Linked DNA regions of Homo sapiens. The protein of the gene in region 1 interacts with the protein of each later gene in a biochemical or structural test. Each region holds a gene or a part of one and is shown in the gene's direction. Other genes may lie near its edges. The genes, in order: COL6A1, PDGFB, THBS1 and ITGAV.

What was found.
Region 2: the proteins of COL6A1 (region 1) and PDGFB form a complex in vitro, tested with the Homo sapiens proteins (one study listed by BioGRID).
Region 3: the proteins of COL6A1 (region 1) and THBS1 form a complex in vitro, tested with the Homo sapiens proteins (one study listed by BioGRID).
Region 4: the proteins of COL6A1 (region 1) and ITGAV form a complex in vitro, tested with the Homo sapiens proteins (one study listed by BioGRID).

What each region holds. Positions count from the first base shown.
Region 1 is NC_000021.9:45,987,881-45,991,805, forward strand, and holds part of COL6A1 (collagen alpha-1(VI) chain precursor), read left to right. Parts: intron 1-1,203; coding exon 1,204-1,257; intron 1,258-1,727; coding exon 1,728-1,772; intron 1,773-1,871; coding exon 1,872-1,898; intron 1,899-2,377; coding exon 2,378-2,404; intron 2,405-2,497; coding exon 2,498-2,542; intron 2,543-2,892; coding exon 2,893-2,946; intron 2,947-3,098; coding exon 3,099-3,161; intron 3,162-3,925. UniProt on the Homo sapiens protein: Collagen VI acts as a cell-binding protein.
Region 2 is NC_000022.11:39,235,116-39,242,815, reverse strand, and holds part of PDGFB (platelet-derived growth factor subunit B isoform 1 preproprotein), read left to right. Parts: intron 1-1,688; exon of another isoform or gene 1,689-1,803; intron 1,804-1,906; exon of another isoform or gene 1,907-1,943; coding exon of another isoform or gene 1,944-1,961; intron 1,962-6,941; coding exon 6,942-7,038; intron 7,039-7,700. UniProt on the Homo sapiens protein: Growth factor that plays an essential role in the regulation of embryonic development, cell proliferation, cell migration, survival and chemotaxis. Potent mitogen for cells of mesenchymal origin.
Region 3 is NC_000015.10:39,587,504-39,594,218, forward strand, and holds part of THBS1 (thrombospondin-1 precursor), read left to right. Parts: coding exon 1-17; intron 18-538; coding exon 539-715; intron 716-1,022; coding exon 1,023-1,196; intron 1,197-1,455; coding exon 1,456-1,583; intron 1,584-1,698; coding exon 1,699-1,851; intron 1,852-2,301; coding exon 2,302-2,520; intron 2,521-3,012; coding exon 3,013-3,120; intron 3,121-3,687; coding exon 3,688-3,847; intron 3,848-4,001; coding exon 4,002-4,120; intron 4,121-5,064; coding exon 5,065-5,299; intron 5,300-5,496; coding exon 5,497-5,724; intron 5,725-5,893; coding exon 5,894-6,165; intron 6,166-6,595; coding exon 6,596-6,693; intron 6,694-6,715. UniProt on the Homo sapiens protein: Adhesive glycoprotein that mediates cell-to-cell and cell-to-matrix interactions.
Region 4 is NC_000002.12:186,594,863-186,602,562, forward strand, and holds part of ITGAV (integrin alpha-V isoform 1 preproprotein), read left to right. Parts: intron 1-5,342; exon of another isoform or gene 5,343-5,472; coding exon of another isoform or gene 5,473-5,519; intron 5,520-7,158; coding exon 7,159-7,289; intron 7,290-7,700.

The sequences.
Region 1 (3,925 bases):
GGCGGGGTCCAGATGGAGGGGATGGCGGGGTCCAGATGGAGGGGACGGCGGGGTCCAGATGGAGGGGACGGCGGGGTCCAGATGGAGGGGACGTCGGGGCTCCAGATGGAGGGGACGGCGGGAGTCCAGATGGAGGGGACGGCGGGGTCCAGATGGAGGGGACGGCGGGGTCCAGATGGAGGGGACGGCGGGGTCCAGATGGAGGGGACGTCGGGGCTCCAGATGGAGGGGACGGCGGGAGTCCAGATGGAGGGGACGGCGTGGTCCAGATGGAGGGGACGGCGGGGTCCAGATGGAGGGGACGTCGGGGCTCCAGATGGAGGGGACGGCGGGGGTCCAGATGGAGGGGACGGCGGGGTCCAGATGGAGGGGACGGCGGGGTCCAGATGGAGGGGACGGCGGGGTCCAGATGGAGGGGACGGCGGGGTCCAGATGGAGGGGACGGCGGGGTCCAGATGGAGGGGACGGCGGGAGTCCAGATGGAGGGGACGGCGTGGTCCAGATGGAGGGGACGGCGGGGTCCAGATGGAGGGGACGTCGGGGCTCCAGATGGAGGGGACGGCGGGGTCCAGATGGAGGGGATGTCGGGGTCCAGATGGAAGGGACGGCGGGGTCCAGCAGGCAGGCTCCGGCCGTGCAGGGTGTGGACTGTCCCGGGGGCGCTGGGGGCTTCTGAGGGTGTCTCTGTCCGCCCTGCCCTCAGCCGCACTCTGTTCAGAAGGACCTTTCTGGAGGTAGGAGGGTGAGAATGTGGGTCCCCTGCTTCTGTGTGGCTCACATAGGATGACCTTAAACGTTAGAATTAGCTGCTGATAATTAAAACTTGCCATGAGGCTGCTCATGGACCTCAGATTTCTGGCTTCTCCTAAAAACCATCAAACCCAGCAGCTGTGGGCCCGAGTCCCATGGCCATTTCCTGGGGGTCGAGCTGTGACCCTGGGGGGCTTCTGTGCTGCACGTCCCTCCCACCTGTGCCTGGGGGTCAGCAAAGCCGAGCAGACAGGAACGAAGGCAGGGAGTGGGGGGAGCTGGCGTGCGGGTTGGAGCTCCCAGACCCAGGCTGACCAGATGTGATGGGGAAGGTGCTTTAAAGCCCTTGATCCCTGAAGGCTGGATGAAGCGTCTTTTTAAAAACCTGTTTCGTGAGCCAGCTTTTTAGAAAGAAACGGGGCTGCCCCAACCTTGACCTGTTTTGTGTTCCAGGGAGAACGAGGCAAGCCGGGGCTCCCAGGAGAGAAGGGAGAAGCCGGAGATCCTGTGAGTGCCTGACTGTGGGGTGGGGGCCCTAAGAAGCTGGAGGCGGGGAACGACTAGGCCTCGGAAACTTCCGGAAGAGTGGCTGGGTTCTGAGTGCCAAAGTCACACTGCCTGTTCCTTGTGGGTGGGAGCAGACCTGGAGGGGCCACAGCCCAGCCATCCTTCCACACAGCCCCCCAGGCAGCCCGTAAGCCCCCCTGCCAGGGAGGGGCTGGGTGGGGAGGTGGCCCAGGGTGCTCAGGCCGGCACCGTCCGGGGCCCCTGCCGTGGCTCCTTGGCCCAAATCCTATCCATAGACTTCCCTCCCCCAGCTCCACCTTGGAGGGCCTCGGCACCATGGGCCCCGTGCAGCAGGGCCCCTCTCTCGGCCTGACCAGGCCTGGGCTGGAGGGAGGGGTGTGGGGCTGGGTGGGACTGGCCCCTGCCCCTGCTCCTCCGGGGGTGTCTCACCATCTCCTCCTGTGTTCCAGGGAAGACCCGGGGACCTCGGACCTGTTGGGTACCAGGGAATGAAGGTACGTGCCCCCCCTTTCCTGGCCCGAGCCCGGTGGTGCCCTCAGCCTTGCACAGCACTAACAAGCCTTCCTCTTCCTCTTCTTCCGCTGGGTGTGTAGGGAGAAAAAGGGAGCCGTGGGGAGAAGGTGAGTGAGGCTCGACCTCGGAGCTGGTCTCTCCAGGCGCAGATGTGCCATCCTGGACGAGGGTGTCCCCGGGGATGAGGACAGTGTCCCTGACAGGAGACCACGTGTCCTGCAGACCCGCTCCACCGCCCCTCGCCGTCCCCTCCATCTGGAAGGACAAGGACAGCCACCCAGGCACCCAGCAAAGGCGCCTGTGTCACTTTCACCCCACCCCAGAGCAGGGGTCCCCCGGGCGGTTACCCTCTGCGGAGCCGGGGGTCCCCCGGGCGGTTACCCTCTGCGGAGCCGGGGGTCCCCCGGGCGGTTACCCTCTGCAGAGCGGCCCCTCCCCATCACTGTCAGTCCCCATGATTCTCAGCAGTGATGTTGTCCCCTCGGGTTGGGGGCACCCAAGCCCCTGCCTCGCGTGGGCCTAAGCCAGGCTTGCCCTGCCCTCCCCACCCCAAATACCCCCTCACACCCGCTTCCTGTCTCCGCAGGGCTCCAGGGGACCCAAGGGCTACAAGGTGAGCGTGGGCTGCTGGGAGGGGGGAGTTCTGCCCCCACGGCAGCATGTCTGACCTGCATCTGACTCCTGCCTTCGTTTTCCCGCCTCACAGGGAGAGAAGGGCAAGCGTGGCATCGACGGGGTGGACGGCGTGAAGGTGACTGGGGGGAGATAGGATGGACGGGGAGGGACGAGGAGGAATGGGGCGAGATGGGGAGGGACGGAGTGGACGGCGTGAAGGTGACCCGGGGAGGGATGGGGTGGACAGTGTGAAGGTGACCAGGGGAAGGACGGGGAGGGACGGGGAGGGATGGGGTGAGGTGATCCCGGCAGGAGGGACAGGGAGGAGTGGGGTGGACGGTGTGAAGGTGACCCCAGGGGGGTGTCTGCTAGGCAGGGCTTTCCAGGGAGGGTGTGGAGGGCATGGAGGGCACCAAGTCTGACAGTTGATTGGCCTCAGTTTACCCACTTGGCCGTCAGATTTTCTAGTTTTCTTCCTCTTTCCAGGGGGAGATGGGGTACCCAGGCCTGCCAGGCTGCAAGGGCTCGCCCGGGTTTGACGTAAGTCACTTCCTCTCACTGATACTTTAAAACTAGCGCTGTCAGCAGCACCTCGTGTGGACCGTTTTGACTTCTGTCTGGGCGGTCTGGGGCTGCTGCCAGAGGCCGCGGTGGCCTCTGCCGGTGGTGTCATGCTGCCCTCTTTTCTCCAGGGCATTCAAGGACCCCCTGGCCCCAAGGGAGACCCCGGTGCCTTTGGACTGAAAGGAGAAAAGGTGAGTGACTTGCGGCCCCTGGAGGACCAGGGCCTTCACGGTTGGCCAAGCGCTGAATTGGAAACCTCTCCTGGAAGCAAGTCCTGGTCCGAGCATGTCGGCCACCCGTGCGGCCTCAGAGGGGAGGAGCTGGTGGAGGCTGGAGGCAGGCAGAGGAGCAGCGGGGACAGTGCCCACCGTGGGGACAGTGGCCGTGGCGCTCCCGCCCAGAGCCTTCCCTGCAGCCCGAGGGCCTTCAGGCCTCCGCCATTCTGTCCCCCGCACCTGCCGCTCGCTCGGCACAGATGGGACCCCACCGCGTCACTCCTAGCCTGCGAGCCGCAGCCCAGAATGGCTCTCAGAACTGAGAATGGGCTGGGTGGCACTGAGGGTGGCGAGTGGGCGGGAGGGTGGTGAGCGGGGGCGGGAGGAGGGTGGTGAGCGGGTGGGAGGGCGAGTGGGCAGCGGGAGGGCGGGAGCACGAGGCGGGAGAAGGAGCTTTTTCGTCTGACAGCTGAGTCTGCCGTTGCTGGTGTTTTCTCTGGAGTTTCTTTGTTGAAGCTGAAGTGTTGGGGAAGACAAAGGCGAATGCTGACCCCACCCCAAACATTCCCAGACGAGCTCCTAGAACCCAGCAGACGGTTTCCAAATCTCATCTTCAAGTTCCCAGATTACCCTCCAGGCCCTAGATTTGAGTTTGCCAATTTGCCAGCCTGGCAAAGCTGTGCCTTCTCTAATGGGAACCAAATCCTGCCCCTTAGACAAGATGGCCCTTGGCTGGGCCT
Region 2 (7,700 bases), on another chromosome or scaffold:
GTCCGCACCTCGCCCGCACCTCGCCGGCTCCCGGGGAGGGTCGGCCCCTGCGGCCTCCAGCCAGGCGCAGGAAGGAGGCAGCGGCGGCGAAGGGGTTAAGGCGGAGGGCTCGGAGGCCGCGGCCCGGCCTTGGGCTGCCGCCAGCGCAGGTTGTTTTGACCACGGAGGAGCCGTCGCCGTCTCCTTTTGTTCTCGGGGCTCCTCGAGGGCCGCAGGCCGCCCGCCCGGGGGCCCCGCCCTTCCGCGGCCGCCCCCCGCGGCCCGCACCCGGGAGGGAGGACGCGGGGCTCGGCCGGGCCGCCTTCAGGCCCCTCCCGACGCCCCCTCTCCGCCTCTCCCGCAGCCCCCCGGGCCGCGGCCAGCTGTTGGGGAGGGGGTGGCCGGCCGGCCCCAGCTGCCGCCTCGCCTCGCCGTGGGACCTGGGGGCTGGGCCCGGTGCCAGGGCGTCCTGGGAACGGCGGCGCCCCGTGGCTGCTCTCCGCAGCCCACCCCGCCCGGGCCCCCGACTCGCTCACTCACCCCACGCATGCACACTCCTGGCCGGAGGCGATGCTGCGCTCCGGCGGGCGGGCGCGCAGAGCGACGGGCACGCACTACCGCGGCCAGGTCGCGCGCCCGCCTCTGCCACGCCCGTGCACACGCGGGACACACGCGCGCGCACCGCACACAAACGCACGCACGGCCCCTGCACGCGCGGCCTGAGCACACGTGCGCGCACACCCACGCACGTACACAGGCACGCACGGGCCCCCGTGCACCCAGCGCCTGGTGCTCGCCCCCGCGCAACAGGTGGGCCCTCCGTGGGCCCTGGCACCTCACCACCTCTGTAGCGGCCCCATTTCCTTCCTGGCGTCCTGTGAGGGAGGGAGAACCTCCCATCAGCACCACAGCACCTACTTTTTTTTTTGCCTCGTCAGCCCGACGCCCCTCAAACCTTACCCATCTGTGACTCCTTTTTTTCAACCACCTCCGCGTGGTGGAAAATGGTGGTGATGTGACTCTGAGGGGCACTGAGCTGTCCAGAGCGATTCCCCCTTCACATAAGCCTTCATTTGAACCTGCAAGACTGGAGGGACCTGGCGTGTGCAACCGCGGAGGGGGCTCCCACCCCTGGCTGTTGCATTCTCTTGGCTGATCCCAGCGTGCCCCGGGGAGGCCGCTGACAGCTGGATGTTTCCCCAGCCTCCCCTTACCATTTCCAGCTTCGTCCAGCACCTCCTCCTTCTTTCCCACAGCTCCACGGGCTCGTGTATCTGGGGTGGAGGCTGTGGCACAGAAACTGCCTTTCTCCTCACTTTAGTCACAGCATTCTTGAACACATGGCCACAGGCGCGATGTATGTGGCACTTTGCAGTTTATGAAGCACTTTGCTGCTAAGCCTGAGTGAGCCTCAGGCTGGCCCTGGGGGAGGGGACCTGCATGGGGATGGAACCACGCAGGGGTCAGTCCAGGAAGGAGCTGTAATGGCCAGTGCTGGGAGAGTCAGGGCAGGCCTGCTGGTGGAGGTGGCCTTGGAGCTGTCCACGTCCTGGTCGTGCTCGGACTAATCTTTCAGCAGACGGCAGGCAGCCGTGAGGCAGGGCTGGGTGGAGGGCCTGCCGAGGCCTCTGAGGTGCCATCTCCACCAGCTGAGCTGGCTTCCAGGAGGGCGAGTCCCACTGTCACGTGACGCGTCTGGCCTCAGCACACTTCTTCCGGGAAAGAGTGAAGGGCCCCACTGCCCTTTGCCATCCAGCTTCCTCTGGCTTTGCTAATGGCCCTAGGGGGCAGGAGACCAACTGCTGGAATCCCAGAGCCCTGGAGGTGTGCAAGGGCAGGTCAAACAGAATTTGGAGGATCTGGTGCAAGAGCCAGGAAGAGAGAGAGAGAGAGAGTGTGTGTGTGTGTGTGTGTGCGCATCTGAGAGAGAGAGAGAGAGAGACTGACTGAGCAGGAATGGTGAGATGTTTATCATGGGCCTCGTAAGTACCTCTCCACGTCTTGTCTTCCCCTCCCCACATTGAGGAGCCTCTTCTGTGACAACTCTTCCTATGTTCTGGTTTATTTCATTGTTTATTACCTGCTTTCTCTACTGGAGTGTCAACCCCATTAGAGAGCTTTCCTCCTGGTCCCCACTTTTAGAACAGTGCCCAGAGCCCTGTGGACAATCAGTAACTATTAGTGCAAAGAACAGTTAGTGCTGGGTTGGTGGGGAGGGCAGGACCTGGCCCCCTGTTGCTCCATGGCCCCACTGAGTCCTCGCTTTGCTCTGCTCCGAGGGCAGCCCCCCTTTTCAGCCCTCTGGTAGGCATCAGTCTTTCAAAGCCCCCCATCTTGAGAGAGAAGCATGTCTGTCTCTCCTCTGTCTTGGGACTTGGGCTACCAGGATTAGACAGGACAGAGGAGAAGAAACAGAAAGAAAATCAGACTGCAAAGGTTCTGTGTATCTTTAGCTGGGGCTAAGTTTCTGCCACCTAAAAAAAAAAAGAGAGAGAGAAGATTGGATTAGTGCAGAGTTCCCAAAGAATGGCAGAATCCCCTGGCCCCGTCCCCTGGCTGGGATGGGGATGGGCAGTGATTGCCGTGGTTGCCAGTATTATAAATGGCTGGACTGGTTCCTCTCTTCCTGCTTTAATTTTCCTCTGCTCCTGCAAGAGGTGGGGAGGCCAGGGTTCTGGGCCCACGTGAAGGAGCAGAGGCTGAGCGGGAGGGTCCCAAGAGCAATAAAGAAGGGGAATGCTAGGTGGGAAACACTGGTTCTAATGGCTTCTGTGGTTTGCCCCGAGAGGGCTTCTTCAAAGGGGTTGGTTGGCTTTGGCATTCGATCTAAATAAGGCCTGCGACTCTCAGGCAGGCAGGCTCTGGGAGGCCTCATCAGCTTCTTCCTCTGCCAGCCACAGACAACGCCCCTGGTTGCTTGGGCCTGTGTGTCCCTTGGTGGGAATGGCAGGCGGGCCGGGGAGTGTGTATCTGTGTGTGTGTGCTGGGCCCAGGAGGAGGGTGGGGTTCAAGCCCCTTTGATCTGCCAGCCTGGTTGGGAGCAGATCACTCACCTGGCCTCACGCTCGCTCGTGCCCTTCCTACCTGCTGCAGCTGGCGCTGGGGGCGGGGTCGGAGGAGGCTGTTTACCTTGGCTCCCACGGCTGGCTTTGCCCCAGCTGCCTCCTCGCCACGCCCTCACTCTGCCAGAAACCCCGGGCCTGAGATCTTGGGACAGCTTCTTCAGGGTGCCAGGCCTCCTTTCCCATCTCTGAAGTGAGCTGTCCACCTGGAGGCCTGCGGAACCTGTGCCCAGGAAAACCAGGCTCCGGGCGGCTCACCTTCCCATACCAAGAAGAGCCTGTGACTCCCAACAGGTGCTCATGCTCGTCATCCCCAGAGCATTGCATCCTGGAGCTGAGCACGTGCTGAGTGTCCCCCCACCCTCACCCACCCCCAGCCCCGGAAGGGCCTTGTAAGCCCACACGGCCCAGGCTCTGCCAGTGTGGAGGTAGGGTACCATTTCCTGTGGCCCAGCACAAGGGATAATGCAAAGTCACGCACTCTTTCATGGGCAGGCAGCTCTCCACCCACTCCTTGTCATCCTCAAAAATGTCCTGTGCTGCTGGCCCTGAGCACGTGTGCCACTCGCTGCTGCCCACAAAGGAGCCATCCGGAAAGAATTAATGATGATGACAGTGACAACTCATTAAGCTCCCATTATCTGCTGGCAGCTCTGCTCTGTGCAATTATGCCTCCCAGTAACCCCGGGCGAGGTATTATTAGCCCCATTTAAAAGATGCAGAAGCCGAGGTTTTAGATTGTGACAAGATTCCAAGAATCCAGGTTGCCCTGGCATCTGGAGCCCTTGCTCTTTCCTCCGCTACAGGGTTTCTCAGCCTCTGCACTCCTGATGTTTGGGAAGGCCGTCCTGTGCCCTGAAGGGTGGTGAGCGGCATCCCCGGCCTCCCCCAACTTAAGATGCAGTGCACACCCCAAGTTGTGGCCACCAGCGATGCCTTCATACATTGCCACTGTCCCCTGGGGGCCCACTGGGCCCTGGTTGAGAGCCTCTGACGTGGGACATGCTGCAGAGTAAAGAGCCAACACGAACCTTGTGTGATGCTGAGGGCCAGTGGCCTTAGAACACAGGAGAGGGAGGCTGAGACGCCCCATGGTGGGCTGGAACAGGTGGGCAGTCTGGAGCCTGGGAACGACCCAGCTCTGCCACTTGCTAATTGTCTGGACCTGTTGCTGCTTGTTTAATTTTTTCTAAGCTTCAGTGTTCTCATCTGGAGGATGGGGATACAAATACTGCCAGCCTCTTAGGATTGGTAGTTTATACGGTGTTTTTCTCAGCGTGTGGCTTGTAGCTGGCATTCATAGATGTTAGTTGTGGTATTATTACCAAATCCGGGGGCTTATGGGTAGTTCTGGGCATCTAGTGGCCACATTACCAAAAGCATCTTCAGGGACGGTCTCCCTGCTCAGATTAAAAGGGACTCTAGTTGCTCATTTGCCTAGGGTTGGGGAAGAATATCCCAGGTGGCCCTCCTGGTGGAGGAGGCAGAAGAATCATACTGGACAGAACCTGGAAAATGGTAGACTCCTTCATGCATTTGACCAGTATTTACCGAGGACCTACTATGTGCCTCTCTCTCCTCCTCAGACCCTATCCTGGGCTCTTTCACACTCAGCCTTGGAGGGGCATCTCCTATGTGTCGTGGGCCTGGATCTGGGGTGTCCACTCGGCCTGTTCAGGGGTCTGCCTCCTCTGCCGTGGCTGGCAGCTGCAGCCGGCTCTCCAGTGGGCAGGGAGATCTTGGCACAAGCACTAAATGCCATTTGCTACTAGGCCTTTGGGCCCCTCCCCTGGGGGGTTAATTGAATCTTTACTCCACAAACGCTTCTTGTTCTCCTTCTGCCAGTGATCCAGGGAGGCCTGGCTAGGCACCCGGCTTTGGCGTTTTCTCTGCCCCTTCTAACGCCTCCTGGCAGAATTAGAATTGAATCGAATGTTCTTCAAGCCCCTCGATTCACAGATGAGAGCCAGGACCATAGGGGCAGTGACCAGCCGAGGTCACACGGCAGTTGGTCCAAAGGCGTGGGATTCAGCTCTCTGGCCTGCCAGTTCTGGGTTTGACAGAACTCTCAGGGGAAGCGGCTTTCGCTGGTGTTCACTGGAGACCAAGCCCTCTGTTCTGTGGGTTGGGTACTTTGTCAACATTTGGAGAGCACCGGAGGCGTGGTCTCTCTTCTGAGGTGGAAAGAATGAACTTGCTTGAGGGCGGGAGGAGGCAGAGCCCGGAGGAGATGGGGCCGAAAGTGAGGGGCAGCGGGGCCCATACCCTCCTCTGTCTTGCACGTGCAGCCCCTGGCTGCCCGGATATTGAAGGAAAGACCCTAGTTCTCAGCCAAGCCCTGCCACCTTTTTTTCCTCAAGTTGCCCAGCAGCCCTTAGACATTGGGCGGAGTTGTAAGCTCCATGTTCAAACAAAGACATGGAGACTCAGGGGTTTCAGGGAATGATGTAGCTTTAAAAGTGGTCACCCCCACCCCCCGCCCTGAGTCTTCTGGCTCCTGGATCGATGTGGGTGGCCAGAGTTGGTCATGGATGAACCCCTGGAGGTGTTGCTAGACCTCATGATAAGCTGGAGGAAACAGAGCTTTCGGGGAGAGCCCCCTGAGGCTGGCCACAGGGCTGAGACGACCTCTTCTCCTCTCCCTCGCTCCCCCTCCGCCGTCAGGCAGCGAGAAAGCAGCATCCCTTTTGTGAAGGTAGCCTGCACCGACCCCCTCTGAGCCCCCCGACCTTCGGCTCCGGGAATGTGGAGCGAACCAAGAAGGGAAGTCCTCCCTTCTTAATCCAGGGAAACTGAGGCAGAAAATAGTTTAACCCAAGGTTCTATAGTAATGTGCCAAGCCTATTGATGCCCTCTCCAGGACTGTCTGTCCAGACCGTGCAGCCCGAGTGCCTGTGCCTGCACGTGTGTGTTTGCACACGTGGAAGTCCGGTTCCAGCCTTTGAACGTGCAGCGACATCTTAGGAATTTTCTTTGCTTCTCAGTGGCTGGTGGTCTGGATTGTGATTCTCAGTCTCCCATCTGCCCTCGCCTCTTTCTTGGGATCTCTGGCATCCGCCCCTTGGGTCTCCTGGGACTGTGGGGGACGTGGCTGTGACCTTCCTACGGGGCTGCTCTTGTGTCATTGTGGGACCTGCGGTTTCCCTGGAGGAAGCCCAGCTCCGAATGAGGCCTGTTGAAGTGTTATCAGGTTTCGAGTATGTTTGGCAACAGGCCAAAGGGGCTCTAAAAATAGGGTTTGGTTGGGCACAGGGCACGGGTAAGCTTTCAGGTTTCCCGGCCGTGTCCGAGGATTCCCTTTTCGCCTCTTTCGAGTGAGAGACTTCATAGATACCGCTAGGACCTGGGGCCTCCTGAGGCCATCGCACTCTGCACGCGTTTATTAAGCACCTCTTGTACCCAGGAGCCTGGGAGTACAGGCTCTGTCATCCCAAAGGCATGGGTTTGAATGCAGCTTTTGCCAATAATTGAGCCTCTCTTTGAACGTTTGTTTTCCCCTCTGTAAAATGGGGGTTAGATTGGCCATGGGAGATGCTGGCTGTCTTCAGCTGTCAGGTGTGTTGTGAGACTCAGGGAGAAATCAGATTTTGGTGCATTCCCAGAACATGTAGTTTGGTGGGGGAGACAGACATAGAGACAAGCAGGTCCAACTCAAAGCAAGCTGGGGTTCCTGTTGGGGGTTGAGGGTGCAGGGACTGAGCTGGGTCTCAGAGGCTTCGGCAGGTCCAGGCCCCGAGGCCTTTGTGCTCCTGATCATCAGGCCTGGATCCTGCCTGTCCGTCTCCCTGTGACCTTGGAGCTTTCCACAGGAGAAAGCGAGAAAGCGTGTGGTGGGGGAGACAGCCATGCTGGAAAGCCCCCACTCCCAGCTCACTCAGCCTTTTGGTGTCTGCCCGGCAGGGGGACCCCATTCCCGAGGAGCTTTATGAGATGCTGAGTGACCACTCGATCCGCTCCTTTGATGATCTCCAACGCCTGCTGCACGGAGACCCCGGAGGTAAATGGAATCCTCGCCCCGCGCTCCGGCCCTCCGAGGAGACTTTAAGAGATCTGGGAGGGGCAGGACAGGAGGCATCCCTCCTTCTTGACGTCTGGAGAACTAGAGGCCCATGGCAGCCCAGAGAGAGCGTGGCCACACCCATCCAGGGCAGGGCCGAGTCAGCAGGCGGGTTGGTACCTGGGACTTGGGGTGTGGCAGGAGAAGCACCCACGTGTGGCTCCGGCTTGGTGCCAAGGGTGGGGTGCCAGGAGGAGGGAGGGCGGGGAGAAGGTGCCCAGGGCATCTGCCGAGTATGTCTCCAGGTGTGGGCCCAGCCAGGGAGGGTGGCACTGGAGGAGTCATCTCCCCGCCCCTCTGGCTAGGGGCCCGGTCTGTGAGGTCCCCTGGGGACACCTGGCCTCGACCAGCAGGCAGCCCTGCCCGTGCCCCAGAGCTCACTCAGCGAATGGGCACGTGCTCGGTGGCACACACGTGGCGGGGCTGGCGGGCTGGATTGACAATGTATTTATAAACGCTGTCTTCAGAGCAAATTCCATTCTATTCTAACCTCTGGCCTGTTCCCTGGAGCCCTGGTCAGCAGCCCCCCTGCACCCCCAGGTCCCCTTCCCTCTGGGGTTCTGTCTCTTTGTCACTTTGTAATCCTTGCCCAGACGCTATCT
Region 3 (6,715 bases), on another chromosome or scaffold:
GGAGTGTGACAAGAGATGTAAGCATCTTAGCCTCTCAGGGACGTGGAGAACTGACCTGTCCTTGTTGTCGTCACCAAGGGCAGCTCCACAGCATGTATATTAAGAACACGGGTTCTAGGATCTCTGGATCCCAATCCCACTGCTTAGCTGTGCACCCTTGAACACAACTTACCCTCTCTGAGGCTCTTTCCTCATTTGCAACTTGGAGATAATAATAGTTCTTGATAAGTTTATCTTGAGCATTTTATTTAGATACTGCATGTAAAGCAGTTAGCACTGAGTTTTGGTTTATGGTAAGCACCCTGTAAATGTTAGGATATTAACAGCAACCCATAAAAACAGCGAACTTATCCGTTCTCTGGTAGAAAACATTCCATGTTGACATTTGGGCATGTGGCCAGGAGCCAATTTCTACCGTACACTGGGTTTAGTTGCCATTGACCATTTCCTGGAAATACTTCTGCGTGCTCCTGATGGGAGCCTCTATTTGGCTGTCTCTAAGCCAAAACCATTTGTGACCATCAACTCTGTACTTTAGTTAAACAGGATGGTGGCTGGAGCCACTGGTCCCCGTGGTCATCTTGTTCTGTGACATGTGGTGATGGTGTGATCACAAGGATCCGGCTCTGCAACTCTCCCAGCCCCCAGATGAACGGGAAACCCTGTGAAGGCGAAGCGCGGGAGACCAAAGCCTGCAAGAAAGACGCCTGCCCCAGTAAGTGTGAGGTCCGCTGCAAGGGTGAGCATGGGCAGCAGCTCTGCCCAGCTGGTTGCCTGGCATCTGCAGCCTGCAGTTCAGTGGGTCATAGAGCAGGAAGGTTACCTACTAGAGAAACAAACAGAAGCAAAGTCCTGCAGGCTCAGCAACTTCTTTTAATGAAAAACAAACTCACCCTCTTCCCCAGCATTCTTTCCATGTGTCAGAGAAGCAGAGGTTTCTTGAACGGGCTTAGGAGAGTCTATGACAAGGGAGGGATTTGAAAGTTGATCTTAATTGTTGCCTGTGGTTCATCTTCTTACAGTCAATGGAGGCTGGGGTCCTTGGTCACCATGGGACATCTGTTCTGTCACCTGTGGAGGAGGGGTACAGAAACGTAGTCGTCTCTGCAACAACCCCACACCCCAGTTTGGAGGCAAGGACTGCGTTGGTGATGTAACAGAAAACCAGATCTGCAACAAGCAGGACTGTCCAATTGGTGAGCCACGCAGCCCAGGATGAAACGACCCAGGAGCTTTGCTCTTTTACTGAATGCTGCAGTCAGCATTCGAGGAGATTCCAGCTTGGTTAGTCCTGAGCGATTTGATTGCTCTAAGATGCAGGTGGACAACATAATCCCAACAAGTTATCGGTTCCCTATACCCTATAATATCTTACACTGTGTTAAGTGCCCAGCATGGCAGTATGGCAGCTTAGACCAACCATTTACTGTGACTGTCTCTCTCTCCTTGTCTCAGATGGATGCCTGTCCAATCCCTGCTTTGCCGGCGTGAAGTGTACTAGCTACCCTGATGGCAGCTGGAAATGTGGTGCTTGTCCCCCTGGTTACAGTGGAAATGGCATCCAGTGCACAGATGTTGATGAGGTGAGGAACTGATGGGGCTCCGAGTTTCTGGATCTAGGAAAGCAGCTAACCTGTGCAGTCGCTTCCTTATGGCAGTGACTTCTAAACATGATGCACGCTCTTATTTCCTCCATAGTGCAAAGAAGTGCCTGATGCCTGCTTCAACCACAATGGAGAGCACCGGTGTGAGAACACGGACCCCGGCTACAACTGCCTGCCCTGCCCCCCACGCTTCACCGGCTCACAGCCCTTCGGCCAGGGTGTCGAACATGCCACGGCCAACAAACAGGTACAGTCAACTAGACGAGTAAACCAGAGGACAGGAGAGCTGTCCTTGACCAAAATAACTGGGAGCGGGAGGAATGTAATTTCATACCCTTCACCAAAAAAAAAAGGGCGAGGAGATGAATGTACGGTCTAGTTTTAGAAACGTGATTAGAAAATCCATGGTAAATCCTGCAGGGGAAAAACAGTCTTCCATATTTAAAAATGCTGCTCTGGAATAAGTTGTGAGCAGATGGACTTGTAAACGCCTAGGTGCTGAGCAAATTCAAGAAAAATAAACATAAAGCAAAGTTTGCTTATAGCCTCAGGGAGAATGGGGAGGGACAGAGGTAACCCACACTCTTCCAAATGGAGCCTCTGTCTACTCAGAGATGACAGGGATCTGGATTCTTGTTTCCATGATATCTGAGGATTCTCAAAAGCTCTGTGTAACAGCAGCATGGTGTACCCTCAGGTGTGCAAGCCCCGTAACCCCTGCACGGATGGGACCCACGACTGCAACAAGAACGCCAAGTGCAACTACCTGGGCCACTATAGCGACCCCATGTACCGCTGCGAGTGCAAGCCTGGCTACGCTGGCAATGGCATCATCTGCGGGGAGGACACAGACCTGGATGGCTGGCCCAATGAGAACCTGGTGTGCGTGGCCAATGCGACTTACCACTGCAAAAAGGTAGAGCCAGGTCCTTTGTGTGCCTCCAGAAAGAGGGCCCATCACCTTATCAAAACACAGGCTAAGGAATTTTAAATACTTAAAGTTTGGACATGAAACTGAAAGATTAAATCTCCCAAAGGGAGAGGGGCACTAATTCCTATTAAAATTAAATCACTTGGTGCCAAAAACATGAACAGGGCTAGCTCTTTTTGGGCAACTGTGTTCCATAGTCAACTCTTCTGTCCAAAAAAAAGTTCAGTACTCTATCCAAATACCAGCAAAGCATGACTTGTGTTCACAACATCTATAAAGCCTAGAGCATTTACACAAATTCTGTATGTATATCCCCCAAGAAAAGTTTTATTTTCTTGTCTTCCCATAAAAAAAATATGCTGTTACTGAGCCAAATTCTGTTCTTTTTCTATTTGGAATTCCAGGTACACTCCCTCGTGCATGAGCTCAGCATGAGGAAGGCAACTGAAGCAGTGATATATATCTTCTCTTTCCTAGGATAATTGCCCCAACCTTCCCAACTCAGGGCAGGAAGACTATGACAAGGATGGAATTGGTGATGCCTGTGATGATGACGATGACAATGATAAAATTCCAGATGACAGGGTAAAAACAGTTTTCTATCCCTTTTTCATCTTTTCAGTTCAGCAACAGCCTGAAACACTTTGGGATTCAAGGAAATTACATGGCTATAGCAAAAAATATACCAAATCAATACACAGGATAATTAGAAATTATTCATTGTGTTCCAGTAGTTTAAGGATGTAGATGTTGCCAAGAGAATTTTTAAATGAGGGTTTTGTTTTTCATCAGAACTGTTTTTCTCTGTACTTGAGAAATTATAATGCATAAACAAATGCCACTTTGTTCCCTAGATTCATTTCAAATGTCACATCGAAATTACAGTAAAATTGACTTTGGGCACACTATGAACTGAGATGATGGGATTATATTCTACATCTCACTAACTTCTAACCCACAGGGATCCATTTTTTTAACTATGTCCTTTTAACTTTTGTAGTGATCGTTTTACACTGAGTGATCAATTAGCCTATCCACTAGGTAGAAAGTATTGCTGATTTTCACAGTTTTAGACATATTATGCACATGGTTTGAGGCTTGAGCTGTTTTCAAGGACAACATTGTTAAGTGCTCCATTTCTTCTCTTTGCAGGACAACTGTCCATTCCATTACAACCCAGCTCAGTATGACTATGACAGAGATGATGTGGGAGACCGCTGTGACAACTGTCCCTACAACCACAACCCAGATCAGGCAGACACAGACAACAATGGGGAAGGAGACGCCTGTGCTGCAGACATTGATGGAGACGGTAAGGTGCTGCCTGATCAGAGGGCCCGCGGGAGACAGGGACATGCACAGCTTTCCAAACGTACTTCTGTCTAGTCCTGGCTATTAGTATGCACTTTGGTGGAAACATCCAAGGCTGGAGAGCCCAGCTCTTATTTGTCCCTTGTTCTCTTCAGGTATCCTCAATGAACGGGACAACTGCCAGTACGTCTACAATGTGGACCAGAGAGACACTGATATGGATGGGGTTGGAGATCAGTGTGACAATTGCCCCTTGGAACACAATCCGGATCAGGTAGGTGGATGGACTCCTTTCAGAGTCTTTCAGTAAACTGTTGGAATATCCCTTTCATGGCCTTTGAAAAATGAGCTTAACAAAGTTCAAACACTTTCATTACTGTGGCTCCCTGGCTTCTCATAGCCAACTGGAATACGTTCATGTAAATAATTTGCCTGATGTGAGCTCCTTGCACAGAGTCTCACAGATCTTTAGCATGAAGATCTGGTAACTTCAGTCTTACCTTCTGTAAGAAGGGCTACTGGACTTGCTCAGCATCGTCTACCATTGTTAAGACAAATTATACAAAGCAGACATCTGTGACTGACAACTGTACAATAATATTAATCATATGTAATACTAAGAGATGGAAAAATAAATGTGCATAAGCAAAATAACCATTTTCATGGCTAATGATGTAATCTAGCTATAAGAAAATCATCAAACTAAGGATACATCCAAAACCAAAGTAATTTATCCCTGTCATAAACATTACCCAGACAGTATACAACACAGGGACCAGTGGTCTGTTTCCATCTTTTCAGGACTTTTCAGAGAAGTCGACGTGTCAACAGTTTTACAACTGAAACCTTCTAAGGAAATTCTCTGTTATAAAGTATCCAGAAAATTTCATTTAACATTAAGATGTAAACAGTTAACATTTCATTTCATCTTTAGTAATTAAATATCACTCTATTTGACCTTATTTAGAAAGTTTTATATGTAAAACATTTTTAAATTATCCCTTCTCAGATTTTTATACGAAAACAAAGATAAAGGAAAAAAACTTTTAAAATGTAATTGCTACTATTGCTATCTTTCTGCAGGAGTGTGTAAATAGACATGACACCCCACTGGCTGTATCAAACAATGGAGAATTTTCCCTGTGGTGGGGGCATAAGTTATCTTTAACATGAATGGTTTATACTGCAATTTACCCTCCATTTACATCTCTCTTTCAGCTGGACTCTGACTCAGACCGCATTGGAGATACCTGTGACAACAATCAGGATATTGATGAAGATGGCCACCAGAACAATCTGGACAACTGTCCCTATGTGCCCAATGCCAACCAGGCTGACCATGACAAAGATGGCAAGGGAGATGCCTGTGACCACGATGATGACAACGATGGCATTCCTGATGACAAGGACAACTGCAGACTCGTGCCCAATCCCGACCAGAAGGACTCTGACGGTGAGTCATGGGAGCCACTTTCTAAGACAGGGACTGCTGGCACAGCTGTGTAGATTGAAGAAATGAAACCAAGGCTCAAAGCATTTGACAGGATGAAGGGACCAAATGCCAACTTAGACAAGATAGTGACATTTCTGACACCAGTAATAATAATAGCACTTTAGAATTTTGCTGAACTCTTGCTTTTTTGACCTCAGGCGATGGTCGAGGTGATGCCTGCAAAGATGATTTTGACCATGACAGTGTGCCAGACATCGATGACATCTGTCCTGAGAATGTTGACATCAGTGAGACCGATTTCCGCCGATTCCAGATGATTCCTCTGGACCCCAAAGGGACATCCCAAAATGACCCTAACTGGGTTGTACGCCATCAGGGTAAAGAACTCGTCCAGACTGTCAACTGTGATCCTGGACTCGCTGTAGGTGAGTAGCGAGTTCTTAGATCCTAAGAGACTGATGCATACATGGGGAAAAACAAATATAAAACCTGGCAGTTGTACCTATCCCTGTGGGTGCTGAGGATGTCTAGGAACATGATGGAGAACCTTCTGAAGGCTGCAGGTTTTAACCTGGCTCTGGGCTCTTCTTCCAGGTTATGATGAGTTTAATGCTGTGGACTTCAGTGGCACCTTCTTCATCAACACCGAAAGGGACGATGACTATGCTGGATTTGTCTTTGGCTACCAGTCCAGCAGCCGCTTTTATGTTGTGATGTGGAAGCAAGTCACCCAGTCCTACTGGGACACCAACCCCACGAGGGCTCAGGGATACTCGGGCCTTTCTGTGAAAGTTGTAAACTCCACCACAGGGCCTGGCGAGCACCTGCGGAACGCCCTGTGGCACACAGGAAACACCCCTGGCCAGGTAAGAAGCAAAGCCCTGGAACAGAGAGAGAGCTTATGGGTGCCTGACTAGCACTGGGGATGCTGTGCTTTGACCAAGACTCTGACCAGGGAGTCTTAGAAAGTTCCCAGCATCACCAGCTGCAGCATTGAACTCTGCTTTGTAAAAACATAATAGTGTTGAAAAGGGAGCTTGACCAAGAATTGCCCTGCAAATCCTAAGGTGCCTTCAGCCTTTTCAAACAAAAAAACCTCCTTCCCTCCTCTCTGTCTGCTTTATATGTGTGCTCAGTGGCACACAACAAATATGAGAGGACTTGGAAAAATTCCCCATTGCAGCCCTCTAACTTAGATCAGCTCAGTACCTTTCAAGCATTGTTTCTGATGGAATGAAATAGAAATCTTTACCTGAAGGAGCTGTGTTTCAACCTTTCCTTTTCCTTTTCCTTCAGGTGCGCACCCTGTGGCATGACCCTCGTCACATAGGCTGGAAAGATTTCACCGCCTACAGATGGCGTCTCAGCCACAGGCCAAAGACGGGTTTCATTAGGTACGATCATACTGATTCACTT
Region 4 (7,700 bases), on another chromosome or scaffold:
AATATACATGTATATTAGGGGACATAAAACTAGGCTATAATTTTGTTATTTAGAAAGCAAATCCTATATTACTTCTGATTAAGGACATATGATGTTTCATAGAGCATTATGAAAGACAAGGGAAAATATGTGGAAATTGTAGTTACTGCTTCTGTTTTACAGTAGTTGTTGACTGGCATTTTTGTTTTTCTTTTGATTCAAAAAAGCATTTTTTAAAAAATGAAAAGTAAATCTGAAACTGGAATTGTAGCTTTGAAATAACATTCAGTACTATTTCATACACATTTATTTCTATATACATGTATGATAGTTTTTCAGAAGTTCCTTTTGGTGAAGGCTCATTGGTCAACTCAGAGTCAGCTAAATATATTAAACATGCTTTATCTTAGAAAGGTCAGTGCTGAAAGCAGACAAACAAGTTAGTTTATTTGGAGGGTTTGAAAAATGGACTTGTCATTGTTTGGCAGGTTGCCCCTCCTTGGTTGTCAAGGTCACATTCCGTGAATCAACTGCCCTTCAAGTACAGTTTGGATAGGGAGTGCATCCAAAGGCCATCCTCCTGATTGGTTCCTCTGAGCCTCTTGTCTGTCTCCCTCTCACTGCCTCCTCTGATACCTCTCCCTCTGTATCGCTCTCTCTTTTTTCTTTTTCTGTCTCTTGTCCTTCCTCTCTTTTTCCTTTCCTCTATCTCTTTTCTTCCTTTCCATCCATCTTTCTGTCCTCTCTCCCAAACTCAATCCTTTATATTTTAGCACTTCTTGGCATGGATGTAAACCTTAATTTTGAAGTCCCAGAGAGTTATTTAATGGCAGTGTTTCCAGTCATTAAAAAAAAAAATGTTGAGGATGGGGATTCTGATGATGTTCTTGGACATACTTTTTGGAGGGAAATGGAGTCTATCAGGAGAGAGTTGCGGGCATAGGAAATTAAGTCACTCAGCTTCAGATTTACACTGCTAATCAGTGAAAACTCTTGTCAACCTTACCTCACCCTGTGTATTCTCCCCACCTCGCCACCATTGATAAGAAATGTTTAAGCTGGCTTTTCTACCCTTCTTTCTCTTTTTCTTCTTCATTTGAGTTAATCACTTGACCATTAATGGCCCTTTGAAAACACTGAGGAAAGAAAAGCCCTTTTAAAGACAGAATTTAAGTTTTACATTTTCTACTCTTCTAGGGAATAACTTATTAATGGCATCAATTGTTTTCAGGACGAAGATGATAATTAAATCCCATCATCTTGTATTTTCGTGGTGTTTCAGATTTTCTAAGTTTGCATTTATTTATTATCACCTTCAGAAAGTTTCTTTTTAAAGTAATTACAGTGGGCATTGTTATTGCCATTCGATAGAAGGGAACAGAGATTCAAAGTTACTGCTTCAATTGATTTGCAGTGTTTGTAAATTTTAATTCCAAACTGTTTCCATTAGATAGTGCTGCTTAGATCACAAACATTTTTTTTCTGGTCTGTCAGTTCTCTTACCCTAATTAAGCTGTTGTACACTTTCATTAGTCATTCTTAGATGAAATTCAAGTAACAATTATTTTTATGGAGTGTTTTATTAACTTTGTTTTTTGTAGTATGTGTTGCTTTTTTTTTTTTTTTGAGATGGAGTCTTGCTCTGTTGCCCAGGCTAGAGTGCAGTGGCACAATCTTGGCTTGCTGCAACCTTCGCCTCCTGGATTCAAGCAATTTCTGGCTAACTTTTGTATTTTTAGTAGAGATGGGGTTTCACCATGTTGGCCAGGCTGGTTTTGAACCCCTGACCTTAAGTGATCCTCCTGCCTTGGCCTCCCAAAGTGCTAGGATTACAGGCATGAGCCACCGTGCCTGGCCTGTGTTGCTTTTTATTCCTTAATTTTTTTATATAGCATCTTTTATCACCTTGTACCCAGTTTTCTATGCAAGTATTTCTTTTTCACTACACAGCTTCCTCGTAAGACTTTAACATATGTCTAAGGTCATTTTACTTTCTCTATCTCTTCATTGTTCTCTTTAAAAAACTTAAATATCTTAATGATAACTTTAATATCGAGATGGCATTTTGGATGAAAAACTTCATCAGCTTTTTTCCCTCACAAATTTAGCATGTAGATATTGACACATTCCTTTTATATTATTCTGCCATTTCTGTAGCATTTCACCAGTATGCAAGTCTGCACATGAAGGTATGCTTAGGAAAACTTAATGAACATCCATTTGTACACCTGATTACCATCATTTCATGCCTATAATGTGCAGATAGCCTGATGAAAAGCAACAGGCTTGTTCCTGGTATTATTCAAGGAACTCATGCTATGTGCTGCCAATAGAGTGGTGTTTTCATTCAGAGAATGCTCCTACTGGGCTCTTTTTCTCTGTCTTTGTTGAAGGCCTTCTCCTAATAACTTCCGAGCTCTCTCTGTCTTATAGTGCCAAGTAAAGAAAGTATCTGAAACCCAAAATTAAGTAGAGATGTTACACAAGGAAATTGTTTTAAGGGTAATTTAAATAATTGGATGTTTAATAGAGGATGCTTTCTGCATTCTTGAGGGGTTCAGACGTAGTGGAAATGACTTATTTATATATGGCTACTTTAAGATTGAGACATAGCTATTGAATTTACTTTGTTACTCCACTGTCCATTTAAACTTTTCTTGAGTTCTTATAATGTGGCAGGTGCAAAAGATGAATTAGAGTACCCTACATTCAAAGAAGCAATTTATCATAAGGTAGGCAGAATAGTTTTGACCAAAAAGTTATAAAATATATTGTAAGACAGGGGTCCCCAACCCTCGGGCCATGGACCAGTACCAGTCCATAGCCTGTTAGGGACCATGCTGCACATCAGGAAGTGAGCAGCAGGAGAGTGAGCATTACCACCTGAGCTCTGCCTCCTGTCAGATCAGTGGTGGCATTAGATTCTCATAGGAGCAAACCCTATTGTGTGAACCCTGCTGTGAAGTGTGCATGCAAGGGATCTAGGTTACATGCTTCTTATGAGAACCTAATACCTGGTGATCCGAGTTGGACAGTTTCATCCCGAAAGCATCCCCCTCTATGTCCAGGGAAGGAAAGGTTGGGGACCACTGCTGTGAGCTACTATTTGAAGACAACCCAGAAGTGATTTTTGCTTGTAGGTTTCCAGGCAAAGCTTGAGAACCAGTTCTCCTATCCTGATGTAGAACCTGGTATGATCTACAACACTAAGAACGTGTACATACCTGTGCTTGTATTACTCTCATTAGGACTACTGTGGCAATGTCCCAAGCAAGCACTATTCAAGATATTGACCCTCAAAAGCAAACTTACCTGAACTGTTCTTTTGTTCTAGTATGCACTCAAAAATCATTTAATTCTGATGAAAAGGGGTAGTTGTGTGATTTTGGGGTCAAATTTTAGACCCGTAGAAAAAAAATTGTATATGTAATAAATTTACATATTATAATTTATACACACACACACACACACACACACACACACACACAGAGTTTCACTGTGTTAACCAACTCTGCTCTAGAAAAAGAACCGATGGGGTTTTGATGACGAGCTGCTCTCTTAGTTATGGGAGGTGGGGACTCTCTTACTCATAGCATTTTTTTTTTTTTTTTTTTGAGACAGAGTTTTCCTCTGTTGCCCAGGCTGGACTGCAGTGGCGCAATCTTGGCTCACTGCAATCTCCACCTCCCAGGTTCAAGTGATTCTCCTGCCTCAGCCTCCCGAGTAGCTGGGATTACAGGCTCATGCCACCACGCCTGGCTAATTTTTATATTTTTAGTAGAGATGGGGTTTTGCCATGTTGGTCTCAAACTCCTGACCTCAAGTGATCTGTCTGCCTCAGCCGCCCAAAGTGTTGGGATTGCAGGCATGAGCCACTGTGCCCAACCTCTTTTTTTCTTATGAAAGACTTTTGCTGAATGAAAACTAAGTTCATTTTCTACCCAGAATCATTTTGCCGTGATGGGAGAGAGCCAACATTGGTGTTTTACTGATGCCAGATATGACTGCATGGAGCTCTATTAAATAGGGCGTGGTTTGGTTGGGAGTTACGTCTTTATTTTGAATTTGTGGATTTTTAAGATAAGTGTCAGAAAGCAGGATTCTTTGTAACCCTGCAATTCGTACAGCCAGCTTTTGTCTACTGTAGATGAGATTTGGCAGCTACTACCCAGAATAAGAAATTGATTTTAAAAGTTCAAGTGAATGCATTCCATATTTAAGATGTACATTCGTTCTAATTTCACAAAAAGGTGAAAAGCAATTGTAAATGTTTCCTTTGCCAGAATAATTTAAGTGACTTAGTATTTAATGAAACAAAATGATTATGGTGATAGCATTTTAGGACTGTTTTTGTCTGCCTGTATCCTGCTTTATTTCCTCCTATATTTCAATCAGTTTCTTGAGATTAAAGACAAAAATCTTTTTTACTTTATCTTCTTTCTCTTCTTGACTCCTAAATGTTGTTGTCCCTGAGAACTCACTCATTGCCCCTCCTCTTTCGACGCTTCCCCTGGCTGAATAACCCCAACTGTGTTCTGATACAGCATACTGTCTCAGGCAGGGCTTCAGACTACAACTGGATGACTCACAGATATCTCAAACAAACATATTAATAATTGAATTCATGGTTTTTCTGTAAATACTAATTTTATTTTATTTCTTGAGACAGGGACTCATTGTTTCACCCAGGCTGTTTGCTTACTTTGTAGCACTTGTAATCACAGCTCACTGCAGCCTCAACCTCCTGGGCTCAAGCCATCCTCCTGTCTCAGGACCCCAGCTCCACCCCCAAAGTTGGGACCACAGGCGCATGCCACCACACCCAGTGAATTGTTTTATTCTTTGTAGAGATGGGGGTCTTACTATGTTGCCTAGGCTAGTCTTGAACTCCTGTAAGTACTTAATCTGCCTTCTGCTTCTCTGCTCTCTAGGCTTTTCTCCCATCAATGCACTCAAGAAGGAAATCTAGGTGGCATTCTTGAATGTCTTTTCTCTCATATTCAGGCCTCCAGCGATTGCTGTTGTACTCCAGATGTTTTTTTCCATCTGTCACCTATCTTTCCACCCACCCTCTTACTGCAGATCACACTCACCTGCTCCCTGAGCTGCGGCCAGTCCTTTGCTTTCCTTGTTCCATTTTTTTCTCCCTCTCCCTTAATGCTTTCCCCATAGGGCATAACATTTAGTTTTCTTTAGTAGATGATTTCATTCTTCTTAAAAAACTCAGTGGCTTCAAATGAACCTTGGGATAAAATACAAAGTTTAACCATGGCCAAAAGGCCCTATTTGACTTAGTTATTGCCAGGCTCCTTGACCTTATCTTGTGCCACTCCCGGCTTGTCCCCTCCTTCAGCCATACCTTTCTTTGTAGCTCCTGGAGATTCAATTCTTTCTTGCCAGGGTCTTTCTACCTCTGCCTCACATATTCCCTCCATCTCTTCATTCCACTTCCCTCATCCCCACCCCCCACTCCCCTCCATCCTCAATACACAAATGCTCCTAGGCACCCTCCTTCTGATCCTGTACATCTTAATGTTGTGGTGAGTTCCTTAGAAATAACTTCTCTGTCTACTTTATCTAAAAGAGAACTTTCTTCCCCATTCTTTAAAGATGATTTCCTTAGAGAGACTTTCCTTTACCTAGAGGAAATCTTTCCCCTCTCATCCTTAGAGATAACTGCTCTGTCTAAAGAAGGTCTCCTCTCCCTATTCCCAAAAATCTCTCTCAGCTAATTGTTTGCTTACTTGGTAGGACTTGTAATAGTAATTTATTTATTGGCTAGTTTCTTGCCTCTAAGGGAATGTAAGCTAAATTCCTCCATTAAGAGCAGGAATCAGCCAAGCACAGTGGCTCACGCCTGTAATCCCAGCACTTTGGGAGGCCAAGGCAGGCAGATCACCTGAGGTCAGGAGTTAGAGACCAGCCTGACCAATATGGTGAAACCCTGTCTCTACTAAAAATATAAAAATTAGCCAGGCGTGGTGGTGGGCGGCTGTAATCACAGTTACTCAGGAGACTGAGGCAGGAGAATCGCTTGAACTGGGGAGGTGGAGGATACAGTGAGCCAAGATCATGCCATTGCATTCTAGCCTGGGTGGCAAGAGCAAGACTCTGTCTCAAAAAAAAAAAAAAAGGCAGAAACCAAGGTTGTTTTAGTCATCTGGTATCTCTAGCACTTAGGACCTTGCTTTATGTAGAGGAAGCACTCACTTCATATCTTTTATGAATGAATAGAAAACAACAAAAGAAAACATCTCTTTAAAATTAAAAATTTTACTCCTGATTATTGTGTCTTTGGTTTATTTTACCTTAATGACAAAGAAATTGAATAGTGGTCCTAATCTTTGACCAAGAATTGATTAGATTAATCTTGTGATAAGAAATTTTTTATTAAATAGTCAACTATTAAAAAAAATTAAGCCTAGGCAATGTGGCGAGACCCCACCCCTACAGAAAATTTAAAAAAAAAATTAGCTTAGCATGGTGGCATATGCCTGTAGTTCTACCTGCTCAGGAGGCTGAGGTAGGAGGATCGCTTGAGCCAGGAGTTGGAGGTTGCAGTGAGTTATGATTGTACCACTGCACTCCAGCCTGGGTGACAAAGCAAAACTGTGTCTCTTAAAAAAAAAAAATAGAATAAAATAAAAATTACAGCAATATTTCTAATGCAAGATAATTTTTCTAAATGGGAAAATCATATTTATAATTATACTTTGGAATAATTTACTTAGAATATTTTTTTTTTTGCTCAACATTCAGAATATAGAAAATGCATAGTAATTCTCTCACACACGCACATGCACACACACACACACCAGAACACCAAAACAAAACTTTCCTGCCTCTAGGCAGCATACATTTTTAAGAGCTTTACTGAGATATGTGACATACAATAAACTGTACATATTTAAAGTGTATGATTGACCTGCATAAATTCCTAAATGAATGTAACCCTGAACTTGCCTTATAAAGTTATCAGGAAAAATAAACTATATCAAATAATGTATGCATGCAAGAGACTACCAAATGAATAATGAAGATTATGCCCTCAGTGAATAGCAAATGGTTTTAAAAAATATTTATAGATAATATCAAGAGAATGATTGCTCCTCATAAATCAGAAGATATTGCTTACACTTTGTTTCATTTAAACTTTGGTCTGCCGCTTTTGTATTTTAGCCGGATGTTTCTTCTCGTGGGAGCTCCCAAAGCAAACACCACCCAGCCTGGGATTGTGGAAGGAGGGCAGGTCCTCAAATGTGACTGGTCTTCTACCCGCCGGTGCCAGCCAATTGAATTTGATGCAACAGGTAAATTTTGATGCACAATTTTCTTTTCATTGATTTCATTTGATTTTTTTTTTGCAATTGGTTTAGTTTAAATGTAGCCATTTAATACAATTATATAGATAAGCACCTCAGCTTCACAGGGAAAATTATATAAAGACAAACGATTTATTATATGATTTTTTCCTACAATTTTTGTGGTAGATGAAAGTATTAAAAGTACGTTGTGTTTCCATTGGTTCAGATGTCTTCTGCCGTAAACTGATAATATCAACCCACAGAAATTTGGGGTAAACCTGTTAGGATGTTTTTGTACCTTTTCTGAGAATAGGGAGCTCATAGGCACAGAAAGGCATTCTGCTGCTTCTCTGTCAACCAAATTGAAGCATGACTCACTATTGTAGAAGATCAAATCTCTGATCATGAATATATCCA